Homo sapiens: one gene and its partners. The protein of the gene in region 1 purifies or fractionates together with the protein of each later gene. This does not show direct contact. Each region holds a gene or a part of one and is shown in the gene's direction. Other genes may lie near its edges.

The links.
Region 2: the proteins of PRRC1 (region 1) and SHMT1 fractionate together in Homo sapiens (co-fractionation; one large-scale study listed by BioGRID). This does not show direct contact.
Region 3: the proteins of PRRC1 (region 1) and FERMT2 purify together in Homo sapiens (affinity purification with mass spectrometry; one large-scale study listed by BioGRID and IntAct). This does not show direct contact.
Region 4: the proteins of PRRC1 (region 1) and NPEPL1 fractionate together in Homo sapiens (co-fractionation; one large-scale study listed by BioGRID). This does not show direct contact.

The regions. Positions count from the first base shown.
Region 1 is NC_000005.10:127,515,550-127,520,959, forward strand, and holds the start of PRRC1 (protein PRRC1), read left to right. Parts: upstream 1-2,090; 5' UTR 2,091-2,227; intron 2,228-5,410. UniProt on the Homo sapiens protein: May act as a regulator of the protein kinase A (PKA) activity during embryonic development.
Region 2 is NC_000017.11:18,356,520-18,361,181, reverse strand, and holds part of SHMT1 (serine hydroxymethyltransferase, cytosolic), read left to right. Parts: intron 1-629; exon of another isoform or gene 630-768; intron 769-4,662. UniProt on the Homo sapiens protein: Interconversion of serine and glycine.
Region 3 is NC_000014.9:52,877,520-52,882,181, reverse strand, and holds part of FERMT2 (fermitin family homolog 2), read left to right. Parts: intron 1-353; coding exon of another isoform or gene 354-386; intron 387-712; coding exon 713-938; intron 939-1,043; coding exon 1,044-1,146; intron 1,147-3,492; coding exon 3,493-3,600; intron 3,601-4,662. UniProt on the Homo sapiens protein: Scaffolding protein that enhances integrin activation mediated by TLN1 and/or TLN2, but activates integrins only weakly by itself. Binds to membranes enriched in phosphoinositides.
Region 4 is NC_000020.11:58,695,169-58,699,830, forward strand, and holds part of NPEPL1 (probable aminopeptidase NPEPL1), read left to right. Parts: intron 1-3,515; coding exon 3,516-3,605; intron 3,606-4,028; coding exon 4,029-4,110; intron 4,111-4,662. UniProt on the Homo sapiens protein: Probably catalyzes the removal of unsubstituted N-terminal amino acids from various peptides.

The DNA.
Region 1 (5,410 bases):
ATATCAAATATTGTCAGTTCTCTGCTCAAAACCCTCCACGTGCTTCTCATTTCTCTCAGAGTGTAATCAAAGGCTTTCCCATGACCTACAAGGCTAGACACGATCTGGCCCCACTCCCTGTCCTGTCTTCTTTACCATTCTCACAGTCCTGCTTCCCTGTTGTCTGCGCACATGCCGAGCACACTCCATCCTTAAGTCTTTGCATGCCCTTCTTTCTGTCCGGATAAGCACAGGCCTGCTGCATTACACGTCTCTGCTCACATCTCACCTATTCAGAGAAGCCTTGCCCATTCATCCTATCTGAAGTGGTCTACTCCAATTACTGTCAATATTACATCACTCTTTGTTGACTCCTCAAACTGCACATCACAAACAGTACTTACTTTATTTTCCTGTTCCTACCCTCTCTCCTATTATAAAGAACGCTCCCTAGGTATCAAGACCTTGTCTGTCTTGTTCGTTACTGCATTTCCAGTACCAATGCTCAGCACATTGCAGCCACTAATAAATATTTGCTGAAAGGATGGAGAAACCAACATACCTTATAGCTATTAAGGGTGTTGATCAGAGAGGATGAAGATGGTTATCTGTCTTTAGCACCACCCCAAACAGCACGATCCGGACAGTAACCTGGATCTCCACCTACACACATTCTTAGAGGATAGGAGCCACCGCCAAAGAAAACCGCCCATGGTAGTTGCACAGTGAGATCTGAAGTCAGAGTATTGCTACATAGTATTAACTTTTCAGTGAGGTATTTTGGAATGCTTACAACTGTGAAGCTCAAGAGATAGATTAATGTGAAATCTCTAAGTGAGTTCCTGAAAAAAAATTGAGAACAACAAAAACAATTTTTTATATATTTAATGCTAAGCAATTTAAAAAATGTTTTCGGACAGGTGCGGTGGCTCACGCCTGTAATCCCAGCACTTTAGGAGGCCGAGGCGGGCCGAGGTCAGGAGTTCGAGACCAGCCTGGCCAAAATGGTGAAACCCTGTCTCTACTAAAAGTACAAAAATTAGCTGGGTGTGGTGGCCTGTGCCTGTAATCCCAGCTACTCGGGAGGCTGAGGCAGGAGAATCGTTTGAACCCGGGAGGCAGAGGTTGCAGTGAGCCGAGATGGCGCCATTGCACTCCAGCCTGGGCAACAGGGCAAGACACCATCTCAAAAAGACAAAAAGTTTAAAAAATTTTCATATGCTCTATTTTATTTGAGTCTGTCACCTGCCTGATTTAGGGATGGTGGATAGTATTATTCTCAGTTTGCAGGTAGAAATATGAAGACTTATGGAGACTAAGTGACCTGTACAAGGGCAGGCAACTGTACAACTGGCATTAGAGTAGTCTCAGACTCAAATCAAGACTTCTGATTTGAAGTTCCTTATTTTCCTCTATCGCACTCCATTAATTTATTTAATGTACATTATTGAACACCAACTATTTCAGGTACTGTGTTAGGTGCAGCATATAATAAGAAAGTTGATAATCTGTCTATTTTACAATTAAAAAAAGAATGTGCAATACATGCACTTGGGGAAAAATTCAGTACAGTAACTGCTACTCTTCTCCCCTCTCCCTCTTCTCCTAATCCCTCTCTCCTGATATAATCACTGTTATCTGGAAATCTTTGACTATACAGGCTAAGTCCCCTGTATCTGCCGCGAGGTCCTTCCTGGAGGTGCTGACTGGACTAGCTGATGTTGGCTAGATGACCGCCAACCAGATGACCTTGGCTAACTGATCTTATCCCTTGGGCCGCTGTGGCACAGGATGAGTGAGCTACGCCTGGTAACAAGAGTGCCACTCTCGTGTAAGGGGGCTGCGAAGTAGAAAGGAGGCCAGCCCTTTGGAAGATGTTTCTAGAGGGTGTGGGCAGAACCAAGTCTCGGTAGTTAGGAAGATCTTGGCTCCAAAGTTTAACTTGCAGCGTCCCGGCCGGGTTCACAGCGCATGGGACAGGGGGGGCGGGGCGATGCGGAGGCGGAGCGGGGCGATGCGATGCGGGGCGGAGCGGGGCGGGGCGGCGACGCGCGGCGCGGTGCGGCGCGCGGCCGACGTGGCAGCCGCAGGAGCATGCGCCGCCCGTGGCCATCTTGTAGGCGGGGACACGCCGAGGTAACTTCCAGGGTGCGCCTTCGTTGTCTTCTCCAAGCTGTAGTTCTACGTCCCGACCTCCCTATCATACCACACTCTTCAGCGACCACGCAGGCACTTTCCCGGTCCCCAGGTGAGCGCCAGGTGGCTCCGAGGGGCGTGTATGAGGGGGGTGGCATGGCATGGCATGGCTTGCAGGCGCCAGAGCCAGACCCCGAGGGACGGTGTCCCTGGAAGGTGGGCGGGCCGGCCGGCGCCACTGGACGCCGATGTCGTTTGCGAGCCCCCTAGTCCCGTGGTCCAGGCTCAGCTGTGGCGGCGTGCGGGGTGCAGCAGGCAGGAGTGCACATCGCAAGGTGAGCAGTTTCCGCTGGGGATGGCACGGTGGGCGCGGTTCGAGGGTCTCGCCCCGCGACACTTTGCTCCTGTCCAAGGACCAAGGCAGGAGCGCTCTGGCCCCACCTTCCAGGGCGCTGACTTTAGGGGAGACTGGCGGGAGCGCCGGCGGACCTTAGCCCGGCCCTGTCTGGCCTGGAGACGTGGCAGAGCCTGAGGGGAAGCCGCTGTCTCCTGAAACAGGATTTCGGCCGCTCTGGCCCTGGAGAGGCCCAGGAGGCTCGAGAGTCATCACACCAGGACCTGCAATGAAAGGAAGCTTATTTTCCCTGAGGTTACCCCATCGGTGCTTAGCGCCGCTTGGGAGAGTTTTTGCATTCTCTCGTTTCTTTGTTTGGTCTTGGGACCTGCTTCAGGCAAATTTGCAGATAGCACGTTTCCTAGATTGACAGAATTTATAGCCAATAGTGTTTTTGTCATTCGAAGTAGTTATTTTGAGAGACAACATGTGCATTTCTGCGATCGTGACACATCTTGGCATTCAGTCTTTCTCCTGTGCAGCCAGTGTTTAATTCAGTGAAAATTTATAAAATTTTATTTCGGGGTCAGATTAGGCTCTAACTAGCGCTCACTGTTTGGTAGTAGAGACAATCTTGTGGCACGAGTAGGTCAGCAATAATTGCTCTTAATGCTTTAAAGTTTATCAGAGCTTCACTCTTCCATTTCTTGTAAACTTGTAAATAGACATCCACTTTTTTTTTTTTTTTTTAACAGAAAAACCAAGGCACAAGCAAATTGGAACAACAGGGTCTAGCCGGACTGAGAACTCAGTTTTCCAAACCATTTTCTTCACTTTTTCTTTAGTGTTGATATATGAATAGTACTTTTCGTGACAAGACTTGAGCCCTAAAACAGTTACCAACTCTGACACTTCAGTATTGTTTTATCATAATAGGTTTTTTTAGTAGAAGGCACTATGTTTATGCATGTAAAATTTACCTCAGTATTGCCATTACGGCAGTTTTCATATAAAAAGCCATTAAAGACAAAGAAATTGATTATTTATTCCACTTAATGACTTTGTATTCATTGTACAGTTTCTTTTGCAGACACATTTGTTAATGTTAGGGATTCTCTTACAATAGGACTTCTACTAGTCATTGTAAGGATTGGGGAGCATCTGTAGTAGAGGGTGAATGACCAATAAAAAATTAAATGAAGAAAAGAGGGAGCTTTGGTTGAGGAGTGGTAAAATCTCCAAAGGGGCATTTCTATCTCAGGTTATTTACCTTCGATGTATAGGTACTGAATGAAAGGATTCAGCCTCCCCGGATCCCTGTTCTCTGCTTAGTGCCATAGATCTTTCCTACGTTCACAGCCAAACTTTTTGAAAGTGTCATGCGTGTTAGTCTCACCTGCCACTGCTCGATTCAGTTTACACTGGAATCTTTCTCCACTCTTTATATGAAAACCGTTCTCCCTAAATTCATCTCCAGTTTGGCAGATCCATTGAACTTCTCAGATAGTATCCTATTTGGCTTCTCTGCAGCATTAATACTGTTGCCCATTCATACTGCGAAACTCTGGCTTTTGGACACCACAGTCTCCTGGTTTTCTTCCTTTCTTTTAGCTCATCTCTTATTCTCTGCAAACTTGTCTTCCATCTTACTAAACCAATAATTGGTTTAACATCATATTCTCTTTTCTCTTGGTATTCTCTTACGTAATCTCATCTCAAAACATGACGTTAGACTATCAGTACACTGATGACACCCACATTTATGTGGTTGCTAAGCTCCAGACCAAGTCAGTGTCTCTACTTAGATGTTTGTTTCAAGGAACTTAAACAGCATGTCAAAGACTAAACATTTTATGATTTCCCCCATCCGACTCCCCCAGAAAGAACATCAAACACATTGGCCTTCTGCAGTGTTTCCTATCTTTGTGCATGGCACCACCATCTATCTAGTTGTGCAAGTCATGCCTCCTTTCCCTTCCTCCATACCCAGTCACTGAATTTTGCCACCTAATCTTGTCTTGAACTTATTTACTTTTCTCCATCTCCACTATCATCACTTGAGTCTAGGTCAGAGTTTTTCAACTTTGGCACTATTGAAATTTGGGGCCACTTAATTCTTGTGTGTAGGCTGTGCATTGGAGGATTTTTAGTAGTATTCCTAACCTCTTCATGCTATATGCCAGTAGTAGCCCTCTAGTAGTGACAATAAAAAATGTCTTGGACATTGCCAAGTGACCCCTTGGGGGCATAATCAGCCCTTCCCACTATGAAAATCATTAGTCTAGGTTGTTACTTACTTCTGATGGAACTACTTCTATATCTTCCTTAATGGCCTGTCTGCATCTGCTCTGTCTGCCCAGTGGCCCAGGCTGCATACTTTGTTCAGATCTTTTCAAAAAATAAATATGAATTGCTAATAACTGGAATCAGCCTAAATGTCCTTCAGCAGGTACATTTATACAATGGAATACTATTCAGCAATAAAAAGGAACCAATTTGATATATGCAGCAGCTTGGATGAATCTCAAGAACATTATGTTGAATGAAAAAAAGCCAACTTCAAAAGGTTATATGCTGTATGATTCGATTTATGTAACATTCATGGAACGAGAAAGTGATAGAAAACAGAGCAGTGTTTGCCAGGGCTTATGGTTGACGGGAAGGTAGATAAAGGAACAACATGAGGAAGTTTCTTTTTAGTGATGGAATGGTTCTATGTCCTGGTCGAGGTGGTGGTTATACGAGATTGTGCATATGATGAAGCTTCATAGAACTATGCACATACACACACACAGTAAATGTAAAAACATGTGAAATACAAATAAGATCTATAGTTAATAGTGTTGTACCAATGTCAGTTTCATGGTTTTGATCATTGTAGTGTAGTTATGTAAGATGCTGTTACTGAGAGAAGCTGGGTTTGGGGTACTCAAGAACTCTGCTGTTTCTACATTTTTTTTT
Region 2 (4,662 bases), on another chromosome or scaffold:
AGGTGCGCACCACACACCCAGCTCATTTTTGTATTTTTAGTAGAGATGGAGTTTTACCGTGTTGGTCAGGCTGGTCTCGAACTCCTGACCTGGGGTGATGCACCCGCCTTGGCCTCCCAAAGTGCTTGGATTACAGGAATTGAGCCACTGCGCCCAGCTAATTTTTGTATTTTTAGTAGAGATGGGGTTTCACCATATTGGCCAGGCTGGTCTCAAACTCCTGACCTCAAGTGATCCACCCACCTCGGCCTCCCAAAGTGCTGGGATTACAGGCGTCAGCCACCGCGCCTGACCGCTTTTTTTTCTTTCTTTAGAGAGACGGGGTCTCCCTATGTTGCCCAGGGTGGTCTTGACTCTTGTGGTCCTGTGACTCCCCAGACTTCAGGTGTGCAAGCCTGATTTCTGACCCTTGGCCAGTCACACTTTCTCCTTTGTCTGGCCTTTGAACTTGGGGTGCTCTGCACTTGTTTACTCTGCGTAGATTGCTCTCATCCCAGATTTCATGGTTGGCTCCTTTCCACAGCTCAGATTTCAGCTCCGGGACGTTCCCTGACCCAGTCTAAAGTAGCCTTGCACCCATTTATTGCATCTTTCTTTCTTTTCTTTTCTTTTTTTTTTTTTTGAGACAGGGTCTTGTTCTCTTGGCCAGGCTGGAGTGCTGTGGGAAAATCTGGGCTCACTGCAGCCTCAACCTCCGGGACTCAAGTGATCATCCTGCCTCAGCCACCCAGAGTAGCTGAGAATACAGGCGTGCGCCACCAGGCTCGGGTAATTTTTTGTATTTTTTTTTAGAGACAGGGTTTTGCCATGTTGCCTAGGCTGGTCTTGAACGCCTGGGCTCAAGTGATCTTCTCGTCTCAGCCTCTCAGAGTTCTGGGATTACAAGTGTAAGCAACCATGCCTGGCCTTGTGTATTTCTTTTTGGTTTTTTTTGTGATGGAGTCTTGCTCTGTCACCCAGGCTGGAGTGCAATGGTATGATCTCGGCTCACTGCAACCTCCACCTCCTGGGTTCAAGCGATTTTCCTACCTCAGCCTCCCGCATAGCTGGTATTACAGGGGCCCACCACTATGCCCATCTAATTTTTGTATTTTTTAGTAGAGACGGGGTTTCGCTGTGTTGGCCAGGCTGGTCTCGAACTCCTGACCTCAGGTGATCCGCCCGCCTTGGCCTCCCAAAGTGCTGGGGTTACAGGTGTGAGCCACTGTGCCTGGCCAAATAATTTTTTTTTTTTTTTAAGATAGAGTCTTGCTTTGTTGCCAGGCTGCGGTGCAGTGGTGTGATCTCTGCTCACTACAGTCTCCGCCTCCTGGGTTCAAGCCATTCTTCTGCCTCAGCCTCCTGAGTAGCTGGAATTACAGGCGGGCGCCACCACACCCAGCTAATTTTAGTATTTTTAGTGGAGATGGGGTTTCACCATGTTGGCCAGGACAGTCTTGATTTCCTGACCTTGTGGTCTGCCCGCCTTGGCCTCCCAAAGTGCTGGGATTACAGGCGTGAACCACTGCACCTGGCCTTTTTTTTTTTATTGAGACACAGTCTCACTCTGTCACCCAGACTGGAGTGCAGTGGCACAATCTCGGCTCACTGCAGCCTCCACCTCTGAGGCTCAAGTAAGTCTCATGCCTCAGGTGTGTGCCACCACACCCAATTAATTTTTTATATTTTTGCTATAGACAGGGTTTCACCATGTTAGCCAGGCTGGTCTCAAACTCCTGGCCTCAAGTTGATCTGCCCACCTCAGCCTTCCAAAGTGCTGGGATTACAGATGTGAGCCACCTTGCCCAGCCTAATTTCTAAATTTTTGTAGAGACGTGGTTTCACTGTGTTGCCTAGGCTGTGGTTGAACTCCTAGGCTCAAAGGATCCTCCTGCCTTGACTCCCCTAAGTGCTGGGATTACAGGCATAAGCCACCATACCAGGCCCTTTTTTTTTTTTCCCCTGGAGACAGAGTCTTGCTTTGTCACCCAGGCTAGAGTGCAGTGGTGTGATCTCGGCTCACTACAACTTCCGCCTCCCGGGTTCAAGCGATTCTCCTGCCTCAGCCTCCCAAGTAGCTGGGGTTACAGGTGCCTGCCACCACACCTGGGTAATTTTTGTATTTTTAGTCATGTTGGCCAGGCTGGTCTCGAACTTATGACCTCATGATCCGCACGCCTTGGCCTCCCAAAGTGCTGGGATTACAGGCATGAGCCACTGGGCCCAGCCCAACCTGTAATTCTTTAGGAAGATTTATATTCAAACAAGTCCTTTTTTTATTTAAAAGAAAAAAACACACACACACAGGGTCTTACTCTGTCACCCAGGCTGGAATGCACTGCCACAATCACGGCTCATTGCAACCTCTAGCTTCCAGGCTCAGGTGATCCTCCCACCTCAGCCTCCTGAATAGCTGGGACTACAGATGCATGCCACCACGACCAGCTAATAATTTGTATTTTTTGTAGAAATGGGGCTTTGCCATGTTGCCCAGGCCAGTCTTGAACTCCTGGGCTCAAGTGATCCTCCTGCCTCAGCCTCCCAAAGTGCTGGAATTACAGGCATGAACCACCACACCCAGCCCAAGTACATATTTTAACTAACAGCTTCACAGGAACTCTGTGGATTACTTAGAGCATGTGCTTTGGGGTTTCGAGTCCTGCCTCTGTGGCTAACTTTCTGTGCAGCCCTGGGCTAAGATATTTTACTTTTCTTTGAGACAGAGTCTCGCTCTGTTGCCAGCCTGGAGTGCAGTGGTGATCTTGGCTCACTGCAACCTCTGACTCCCAGGTTCAAGTGATTCTCCTGCCTCAGCCTCCCGAGTAGCTGGGATTACAGGCGTGAGCCACTACGCCCGGCTAATTTTTGTATTTTTAGTAGAGATGGGGTTTCACCGTGTAGGCCAGGATGGTCTCGATCTCCTGACCTCCTGATCCGCCCACCTCGGCCTCCCAAAGTACTGGGATTACAGGCATGAGCCACTGCGCCCAGCCACAATATTTCACTTTTCTAACGTCGTTTTTCTTTCTTTAGTTCTTTTTTTTTTTTTTTTAAGAGTCCTAGCCCAGGCTGGGCGCGGTGGCTCACACCTGTAATCCCAGCACTTTGGGAGGCCGAGACCATCCTGGCTAACCGGTGAAACCCCATCTCTACTGAAAAAATAAAAAAAAAATTAGCCAGGCATGGTGGTGGGTGCCTGTGTTCCTGGCTACTTGGGAGGCTGAGGCAGGAGAATGGCATGAACCCGGGAGGTGGAGCTTGCAGTGAGCCGAGATCGCGCCACTGTACTCCAGCCTGGGCGACAGAGTGAGACTCTGTCTCAAAAAAAAAAAAAAAAAGAGTCCTAGCTCAGTAGGTAGGACTATAGGCCCATCCCACCATGCCCAGCTAACTTTTTTTTTTGTAGCAATGCCCAGGCTGGTCTTGAACTCCTGGCCTCCCAAAGTGCTGGGGTTACAGGTGTGAGTTGCCATGCCTGGCCCTGAGCCTCAATTTCATTACTTGAAGTATGAAATAAATTAACACATTAAAGTGTTGCTAGGATTAAAATGAGGTCCTTATGTATTCAAAAATCGTACAGAGATTTTTGAGGCCCTTCTTATAGCAAAACTCCCATTTACATTTTTCTGGAGCCTGGAGAAATGTGTCCAGACTGAGTGAATAGGTGCTATTTGCTGTACTTACATTATCATTTATAAAATACTACTGGTGGTCATCCTGGAAAGATGATCCCAACTGCCTATATCCTGTTCATCATTAACTTGTGTGTCCCAAAAAATCTTTTGAAAAGTTGCTAAATAGTGAATATTTACTATTTTATGAGGGCCTGCCAGTTCCCTGCCAGTGGAATTGTTTCAAGTCAATGATTCATCTGTTCAGTCATTTGGAAAATACTCTTTTTTTTTTTTTTTTTTTTTTTTTTTGAGGTGGAGTCTTGCTCTATGGCCAGGCTGGAGTGCAGTGGTGTGATCTCGGCTCACTGCAAGCTCTGCCTCCCAGATTCAAGAGATTCTCCTGCCTCAGCCTCCCAAGTAGCTGGGACTACAGGCATGTGCCACAACGTCCAGCTCATTTTTTGTATTTTTAGTAGAGATGGGGTTTCACCAGGTTGGCCAGGATGGTCTCCAACTCCAGATCTTGTGATCTGCCCACCTCGGCCTCCCAAAGTGCTGGGATTGCAGGCGTGAGCCACCGTGCCCGGCCGGAAAATATTCTTCATGTATAGCAGTGTTGGGTACCGCAGGAGATTTTTTAAAAAGTAGCACTCAGTCCTTACCTTCAAGGAACTTAGTTTAGTTGTGGGAGATAAGCTATATCCATGAGAAGTTTGGCTGAGAGGAGGCGGAGTTGGGCTCCCTGCAGGTGGGGAGGAGGGTCAGTTCTCATTTCTGAGGGAGATGAGCTGACGTCTGCAGTTTGGAAAGGAACCAGAAGTTCCACATGGTGGTTTTGCAATAGAACATGCTCGTGTTTACCAAGCAATTCTGAGGGAAAGGCTAAAAAAAGTGTTAGTTTATCAACTTGATAGAACTAACAGGTTTCGATGAGCTTTGATTCAATATAATGCTGCGGCCAGGCATGGTGGCTCACGCCTGTAATCCCAGCACTTTGGGAGGCCGAGGCAGGCGGATCACTTGAGAGGAGTTCAAGACCAGCCTGACCAACGTGATAAAACTCCATCTC
Region 3 (4,662 bases), on another chromosome or scaffold:
AAGACTTTACTATAAAATTATTCTTAATCTATATGAATTCAGTTCTATTGTGTTACCTTCAAATTGTATGGATTTCAAATGGTGGTAAAAGTTGTAGACATATTTGTCACTATATACTTGACTACAGCACAACTTCATTCTTTTAAATTGAACAAAAAAAACCGTTTTACTTAGGTTGTAGCTTCTAAGGTTCTTTACTCTGAAATCCACTTGAAATGTGTACTTCAGTTTATGATTCACAATTAGGGAAAATCTGTTTTTTCTTTTTCTCATTTTCTTTTCATTCTTTTGTTTCTGTCCTCTGTTGTGGCCTTTCCTTTACCTTCTGAATTCCTTTCTTTCCTTTCCTATAGGCACTGATGTTCTTTACATTGGCCCTCTGAAAGGTGAGCCTTGCCACAATTTAAAGACAAAAAGTGTTGGTCTGTCTGCTTCAGCTATATCCTTATTTTCTAATTCTCTTGAACTGATTTTTTTTCCCCAGAATTTCTGCCAACTTAATTATATTCTTAAGGCTTTATTACGTGTTTTAATGTTATACAAGGAGAATTAATTACACATGTTTTCATAACAGGTAAAATAATATACTAAGCTTTCCTTTCAGAATAAAACTTTTGTTTCACAATGTGCTTTATATCATAATATGTGTTATTATTGAAAAATAAGATGCTGTACTGCATACTTACTACCTGTTTTTCATGTTACTTATTAGGAAGTATATATTCAAGCCCAGGACTGTATAGTAAAACAATGACCCCCACTTATGATGCTCATGATGGAAGCCCCTTGTCACCAACTTCTGCTTGGTTTGGTGACAGTGCTTTGTCAGAAGGCAATCCTGGTATACTTGCTGTCAGTCAACCAATCACGTCACCAGAAATCTTGGCAAAAATGTTCAAGCCTCAAGCTCTTCTTGATAAAGCAAAAATCAACCAAGGGTAAGTTTTAAGATATAGATAAAATTGAATTTCTTCATCCAGCTAGAGGTAGAAATATTGTCTTCATTCTGTGTTGTTTTGTTCCACTGTTCTTAATTTGTCCAGATGGCTTGATTCCTCAAGATCTCTCATGGAACAAGATGTGAAGGAAAATGAGGCCTTGCTGCTCCGATTCAAGTATTACAGCTTTTTTGATTTGAATCCAAAGGTACCGAGGGTTTAAAGGGATCTTTTTTTTTTCCCCATTAATTTGTTTTGTTCACATGGATGTTTGTTTTTGGAAGTCGGTGGAATAAGGAATTATTTGTATATAGGAAATCTTGAATAATTATTAAAAACCCAAACTTTTAGGCAAAGGTATTTGTATTTTAAATAAGTCTATTTTAGTAGGTTGGAAGCATAACTAAACCTTTTTATTGTTGTTATTAAGATAATGAAACTTTTGGCTGATTTGGTTTTATCTTTTTTTTAATCTCTAAGCTCTTAGAGTGTCATGATTTGTATTTTAAAGGTACTCTTTTGGTACTATAGAACTGGCAAAGTTTAGGCCGGGTGCAGTGGCTCAACGCCTGTAATCTCAGCACTTTGAGAACCCAAGGTGGGCGGATCACATGGTCAGGAATTCAAGACCAGCCTGGCCAACATGGTGAAACCCCGTCTCTACTAAAAATACAAAAACTAGCCACGCATGGTGGCACACGCTGGTAATGCCAGCTACTTGGAAGGCTGAGGCAGGAGAATCACTTGAACCTGGAAGACGGAGCTTGCAGTGAGCCGAGATCATGCCACTGCATTCCGGCCTGGGCAACAGGGCAAGACTCCATCTCAAACAAACAAAAAAAAGAATTGGCAAAGTTCATTTTTAAAATATAAGACCTCTCTTCAACTATATTTAAATAAAAGTTTCAAAAAGGTTACCTTTTCAATTACTTTTAGATTACTAATTACGTGCCAAAAGATGTTGCTTCAAAAAAACGTTTTTTTCTTGAGACAGGGTCTCACTCTGTCCTCCAGGCTGGAATGCAGTGGTATGATCATGGCTCACTGTAACCTCAAAGTCCTGGACTCAAGCCATTCTCCCACGTCGCCTCCCAAGTAGCTGGGACTACAGGCTCACCCAGCCACACCTGGCTTTCTTATTTTCTGTAGAGACAGAGTCTCACTATTTCACCCAAGCTGGTCTCAAAACTCCTGGGCTGAAGCCATCCTCCTGCCTCAGCCTCCCAAAGTGCTGGGATTACCGGCCTGAGCCACCATGCTCAGCCAAATTTTTCTTAGGTCTACATTTTTTTCCTCTGTAACAGACAAACACTGTTACTTGTCTTTACTATGATTGGTATTATCTCTGCTACCATAGTACTTCACTTTTCTGGTAAGATTTAACTTTACCATAAATATCTGGAGCTTTTTTCCCCCGTAGAAAACACTTGGCACAGAGGTTTGAATCTTTTACTTCTCTTTCAGCCTGGGGAAAGAAACCTCTCTTGGCTACCCTCTCATCCTTTTCATGTTTAGAGTATAGTCTAGATTTTAATGTTATGTTTACATTCTTTTATTATATGCTTAAGTAATTCTTTATACAACAGTAAAATCTCTATAATAAAATTATAGAAAATAATTTTAATTCATTTTCAGGCCACATCATACCTACTTTTAGTAAAGCCAAAGCTACTTTGGGAATAGTTACATTTGTGAGGGGAATGGAGATGTATTTTGTCAACGTTCTAAAATACATGTTGAGCATTCCTAATTTGAAAATGTAGAATGCTCCAAAAGCTAAGACTTTTGAGGGCTGACATGATGCTGAAAGGATATGCTCATTTTGGATTTTTATGTTAGGGACACTCAACTGGTATAATGGAATATTCCATCATCTATAAAAATTCTAAATTCAACACAGAAGGTCTCAAGCATTCTGGATAAGGGATACTCAATCTGCAGTATTCTTAAGGCATTACTATTGACTTTTATTTATATAATTAAATGGATAATTGAATAACATATAAGTAAACATTTTCCACAAGTATATTTGCCCTGTATTTTGCATACTTAAAATAACTGCCGTTTCCAAGGACTTGCCACTTTATCTGGGTATGCTTCTCCACAGTGAACAAAATGTTCCCCAGAATAATTTGCTTTCTGATTACATGTTTGTATGGCAAGTTGCAGTAATAACACTGAAAAATAATCGGTAGTTCCGCCTTACTTTAATGTCATCAAATTAGATTTCTTATGTTAAAGGCTATAATGTCTAGTGGTTATTTCCCTGAAAAATAACATACAGAATCTACTTTTTAATACTGTACAATCAATTATTCTCTGTCATATTTTAATGTCATTTTTAATGGAAAATTAGATGTGGGCATATATAGGCATGTCTGACCCCATAGGTATCCTTCTAATAATACTTGATTGTAAATAAAAATTCTTGCTTGTAAATTAAGATCCCAGGAAAAAAAGCATTAAATTTTTCTTGTCAATTGAATATTCAGAGTTTGAAATTTTTCAATGGTAAAGGTTATATATTACAAAAGAACTATTTCTCTTGTTGCAGTATGATGCAATCAGAATCAATCAGCTTTACGAGCAGGCCAAATGGGCCATTCTCCTGGAAGAGATTGAATGCACAGAAGAAGAAATGATGATGTTTGCAGCCCTGCAGGTAGTTGAAAGGTCTAGTAAATGGGACTTATTCCGGTAAAGGGTAGGGAGGTATTTTTAAACAGTAAAGTGGAATAGTAATTCCAGTAACATTTCACGAGACAGAATTTTTGCCATGAAGAAAGTGAGTAGACACTTAGGAAAGCAAAACAAATACATTTTAGTTTGATTTTTTATCTTTTCCAAGAGTTCAGTGGTATACTTAAGTACTTTTCTCTATTTTGTAGGAAAAAAATTATCCTATTTTGTAGGAAAAAAATTATCCTCTCACCCCCAAATATAAATCTGCTCAAAGCTCCTCAGTTTTTCCTTGGAAAGAAAATATTTATTAAAAATCAGATTTCTGAAATCTAATCTGAAGCTTACCTGTATAATTTCATAAATAGCCAGGGATGATACAACACACTATAAAATGGGCTGTAGCAAAGCGATGCTTTTAGGTGATAAGATTTAGAGAGACTAGTGGAACCAAACCTTTTTCTACAATGATAATCCTTAAGTAGATAGCTAACATTGTCCTTAGATTAAACCAGTTTTTTCATATGTGGTTCTTACATACCACCTCCTTCAGAATTATAGGGGAGCTTATTTAAAAATTAATTATCCACTTCATGAATAACTTTAAGGTGGCATCCACACATCCACATTCTTACAGATACTGAGGTCTGATGACCAAATTAATTCATCTTTCTTAAATTTCAGATACCCGAGTAATGCTTTGGCAAGTATTCCCAGTTATGACGGGATTCTAGGTTCAGCCTAAAGTCCTGATGAAGTTGGTGTTCTATAAATAACAGAAGTACAGGAAGCAGAGTTGACATTCAGTTGAAGAACTTTTCACTGTAGAAGGGATTTTGTTTTTCCTTAGAACACAAACAAAAATGCTCTCAGTCTTCCAAATGCCTCCTTTATGCATCCAGAAAAGTTTTCAGTTGTGACCCAAAAAGTTGACATTAGAAAGCAAGAATGGGGAGTGAGGTTAGCAAAAAAAAAAAAAAAAAAAAAAAAGCAAGAACAGCTAATTTTCACCTTAGTTTTACATAATGAAAGGAGTGGCAAAGAA
Region 4 (4,662 bases), on another chromosome or scaffold:
CATGTGTGGTGTGTGTTGTTGTGTGTGAGTACTGGTGTGTGCATGAGCAGCATGTGTTGCTGTGTGTATGAGTGCTGGTGTGTGCATGAGTGGTGTGTGTGTGTGTTGTGTGTGTTGCTGTGTGTGTATGAGTGCTAGTGTGTGCATGAGTGGTGTGTGTGTGGTGTGTGTGCATGTGTGTTGCTGCACCCTTTACAGGGAGCACTTCTACATGTGTTATTTCACTCAATGCTGAGAATGATCCTTTTGAGGCTGCAAGGCCGGAAGTGATTTCCCAGCTCCAGATCCTTGGATGGGCCTGACATCAGGCTCCTGTCCCCACGGCAGCGGTCCCAGCCTCTGCGCCTGCCACCTCCAGTCCCCGAGCCCACAGCGCCACCCAGGTTGTCTTTTCTCATGTGTCAGCGCTCATTCTTCACTTCTGGCTCTGGAAGGCTGTCGCCTTCACCCAGGCAAGCTCTCCCACATCAGCACTTGGGCCACACCTCATTTCTTTCACTGTGTGCTCTCTGAGGCCTGTAACCACTGCCCCTCAACCCAAATTCTTCCATCTTCACCAGCATGAGATAGCTCCCCTTTTTTCCCTTCGTCTCTGAGCTTTTAAAAAAGTCTAACTGGTTTGCCTTGCTTAATCCTCTTTTCCCTCTTAACCCATGGAGACAGAGTTTTTGCCCCCATCCTGACATTGTTTTCTAAGGACTGCTGGATGGGGTGTTGCCGTCCCTCCTTGAAGTGCATCTGCCCCATCCAGAGGTCTCCCTCCCTCCCGCTGCTCCCCAGACTGCTGCCACCTCTCGGCATCCCCTTCATGGCCTCTCCAGCGTTCCGACCTGCTCAGCCCTCTCCGGGTCAGACACCAGCATCTGCCTCTTCTCTCTGTCTTTAGGGATTTTCTTCTGACTTCCAGGCCTGCCATCCAGGTGGGCACGGGTGCCCGCAGAGCCCACCGGGGGCTCAAGCATCACCCTTATTTCCGAGGACAGCAGGGCACCCTGACCTCTGCTGCCCTCAGTCCCTTCCCCTCCTGTGGACTTCCTGCTGTCCCTTAGACTGGCCACGCCCACTCCTGCTCTTGCTCCTCTGCAGGGGTCCTTCCCTCTCCAGCCCAGCATGGTCTCCATCCAGCCTCTGCCCACATTCCCTCCCCAGGGAGGCCTGGCCCTCTTGGCTAGCACCACCCTCCCATTTGTCAGCTAAACCATCACTACTAGACATGTCACATCTTTGTTGATCTCCTGTGCTCCTCACTGGGTTGGGAGTCCCCAGAGGGCAGGGACCTGGTCTTGTGCACAGTGATCCCAGCACCCGACCCCACACATGAAAAAGGCCCAGTAAACATCTGGTGATGGAACCAGTGGGGGCAGTCAGTCCCCATGGCCCCCGACCCCATTGGTCCCAACTAGCTAGTGTGTCCTGTTTCTTGTCTTTGCTCTGCCCAGTGCCGTGCCTTGAGGTGCTCTCCTGGGCTGTGGCAGCAGTCTCCTGGTCACCCTGCCACAGATGGCCTCCTTCCAGCTCCTGCGTCACTCGCCTTCCAAAGGCACATCTGGGTGTGTGCAAGGTGGCATCTTCTGAGTGCTGTCAGCTGTCAGGCCCTGCGCTGAGGCAGGAGTGTGCACACAGCACGTGCTGGTGCACTGAATTCTCACTACAGCCCTGTGAGATACATCCTGTTGTCCCCACGACATTGAGTGGCTCACCGGGGCCACGGCAGCAAGGGGCAGAGCCAGGTGTTAAGCTGCAGCTGCCACCACTCAGCCCTCTTGGGTCCTGAGCACACCATCATCTGACACCCACGTGGCCTGTACTCAGCTTCTCCCTTTTCTTCCCTGCGGGAACCTTCCAGTCCCCACCCAGGACCCTGTCCCCTCTGCATCCTGTGGCCTCATCCTCTTCTGTAGCAGGGACTGGGACTGTGTACTGTGAGTCTCTGCTGAGCTTGACTCCCTTGGACGTCTCTGAATTCTCAGAGTCTTGCACGATGCCTGGCACATGTGGACAGAATGAGTGGTCCTCCTCTCATGGTAAGGGACACCCTTCCCCAGTGCAGCATGGCTGTGTGTTGGTGGAGGGCACCCGCAGCCCTGCCCTCCCTCCCACAGGAGCGCTCTTGCGTCAGAGCCCCGAGCTCGCCGTGGTCTGGGGTCTTCCAGGTGACACCTGGCCTCCTTGGAGGCAAGTCACACAGCATTGACGCACTTCTCAGACAGTCCTTGTCGAGTCCCCACATGCCCTCACAGACAGAGAACCCGCTGACAGGCGGCAGGGACGGCTCAGGCACATTCATATCAGAGCTGTCAAGGTCCAGGTTTCTACCTTTGAGGCTTTGGGGTTTAATTACCTCGGCAGGGCGGGGGAGGTGGCCAGGCTGCAGTATCGACCCGGCGCCTGCTGCCCTGACATTATGAGACTAGAGGCAGGGATGATAAACTTGCTGCTGTCCTGCACCCCCGCAAAACAGCGCTGCTCTTCTCTTAATATTGTCTTTCTGGTGAGCAAGGGAGGCCGTGCAAGCAGCCAGCTGTCTGAAGCTTCTGTGCCTGGGGATGCACAGTGGGGAACAGGGTGGGGAAGGGGTGCCCGCAGATTCAGCTGAGAGAGAGTGAAGCTCCCAGGGCAGATGTGAGACACACATGAGAAGGCAAAGAATGGCCCAAGCCAGGGCTGAAGGACACATTTTTGGGACCCACGTGATGTGTGCTTTGGTGCATGTGCCCCTCTCTGCCCTGCCTTCGAGTGTGGGCTCTGAAGCCCTGCCAGGCCAGCAGGGCCCATGTTTTCAGTTCCTGGGTGGACACGTCAGTTCCATGAGGCGAGACCTCCCTCTGTGTCCTTCCCCTCCGTGCCCAGAACCGTGCTGTGTCAAGTGACAGCACTAGGGCAGCCAGACCCCCATCTGTCTTGCAGGGTTTATGAGGGACTTGCGTGGGACTCATGAGGAAAGCAACGGCCCAGAGGGAAGGCGTCTGGGAGGGCCAGCAGGTTCAAGCACTCAGGATGTAGAGTGCTTCTGCTTGGTGGGGAGGATCTGGAAAAGCTACTGGTAGATACGGCCTATGAGAAGTGCCTCGAAGGATGACTGGGATCTTGGTGGGAGGGAAAGGACTGTGGGATCTGCAGAGGTGAGGCGTGGGAAGCTCAGGGCATACTCAGGGGCTGGCATGAGGGCCACCTACCTTCAGTTGTAGCTGGAATCAGGGGAGAAACAGGACACAGGGCTTGGAAAAGATCCAGATACAGAAGGGCAGGACCCCAGGCTGGGGACTCCTGTATATTTGTGGAGGCGCAGGGTGGTGGCTGTGCTGAAGGTTCTTTCTACAGGTGGCCGGTGGCCCTGGGTTGCTGGGGGTGGGGCAGGCAGCGAGAGCCATGGTCCCCCTCTCCCCTCTCTTTGCTGCCCTGTCAGTAGCCCTGTGGGTGATGTTTGCCTCTGCTGCCTTTTGTTCCTGGGGGATGGACAAGGGGAGAACATCTGCCTCCCACCTGGTCCCCAGTGATGGCCTTTTTCTCCCTAGTGCTTAGCGAATGCCACAGACGGCGTGCGGCTAGCAGCCCGCATCGTGGACACACCCTGCAATGAGATGAACACCGACACCTTCCTCGAGGTTTGTGGCGTCATCAGGCCGGGGGTGGGACCAGGCTGGGGTGGGTGTCATAGACTCCCAGGAGAGCCAGAGGAAACCTGGGGCTGTCCACACCCTGACGTGGCCAGGGAACCTCAGGGCTGCCCTCGGCGGAGCGCTGCTGTCTGCCGGGCTCCAGGAAGCCTCAGGAAAGGGTGTGTGGGGAGGACAGAGCCTCCTCTTCAAGGCCCCTTGGCAGGACCACAGCCAGAGCTACAGGAAATGAGAGTGTGTGGAGGGTGAGCCCCCTCTTCTGGGTTTCATCACACGCGAAGCTGGCTCCCAAGCCCGGCTCCCCGACGCGGCACAGGCAGCGGTTCATCCCTGGCCCCAGCCTCGGCCTCTCCTGTTTCCAGCCATCTTCATGTGTTGTTGTGCTGTTGTTTTTTCCATGAACATGTCCAGGAGATTAACAAAGTTGGAAAGGAGCTGGGGATCATCCCAACCATCATCCGGGATGAGGAACTGAAGACGAGAGGATTTGGAGGTGGGTGGGGGCTGCATCCCTGCAGCTCTTGGCCTCGGGCAGTGGCCAGGGGCACTTGGGTGGCAGGGGGTCGGCGGGCCACATGGCACATTGTCCCAAACTTCATCCTGCTTGTGACCTGAAAGGAATCAGCCTGTGTCCAAGCCCAGTGCCGGACCCTGGGAAGCAGCCGTCCCTGGGGGAGAAGGGGAGGCAATCCAGATTCTGATTTGGATTCTGGAAGCTGCTAGATCCAAGTCCTTCCCTGCCTGCAGCCTCTCCAGCGTCCTCGCGTGCTGCACACCCTTACTCCTGGGACTGGCTCAGCAGGGCCTTTCTGTTCCTTGAATACACAAGTTCCCATCACGGCAGGCAGGGCCTGTGTGCGGATGGCTCTCCCTATCTGGAATACTTTCCCCCAAGATATATTTTTGGTGGAGGCCATCTCAACCAATGCCCCCTCCTCAGAGAGGCCTTCCCCAAGTCCCCAGACCCACCTTTCCCCACTGCCCAGGAACCAGAGGGGCAGATAAGTATGACTCAGCTGCCCCGTGGTGCTTGTAGACTGGCAAG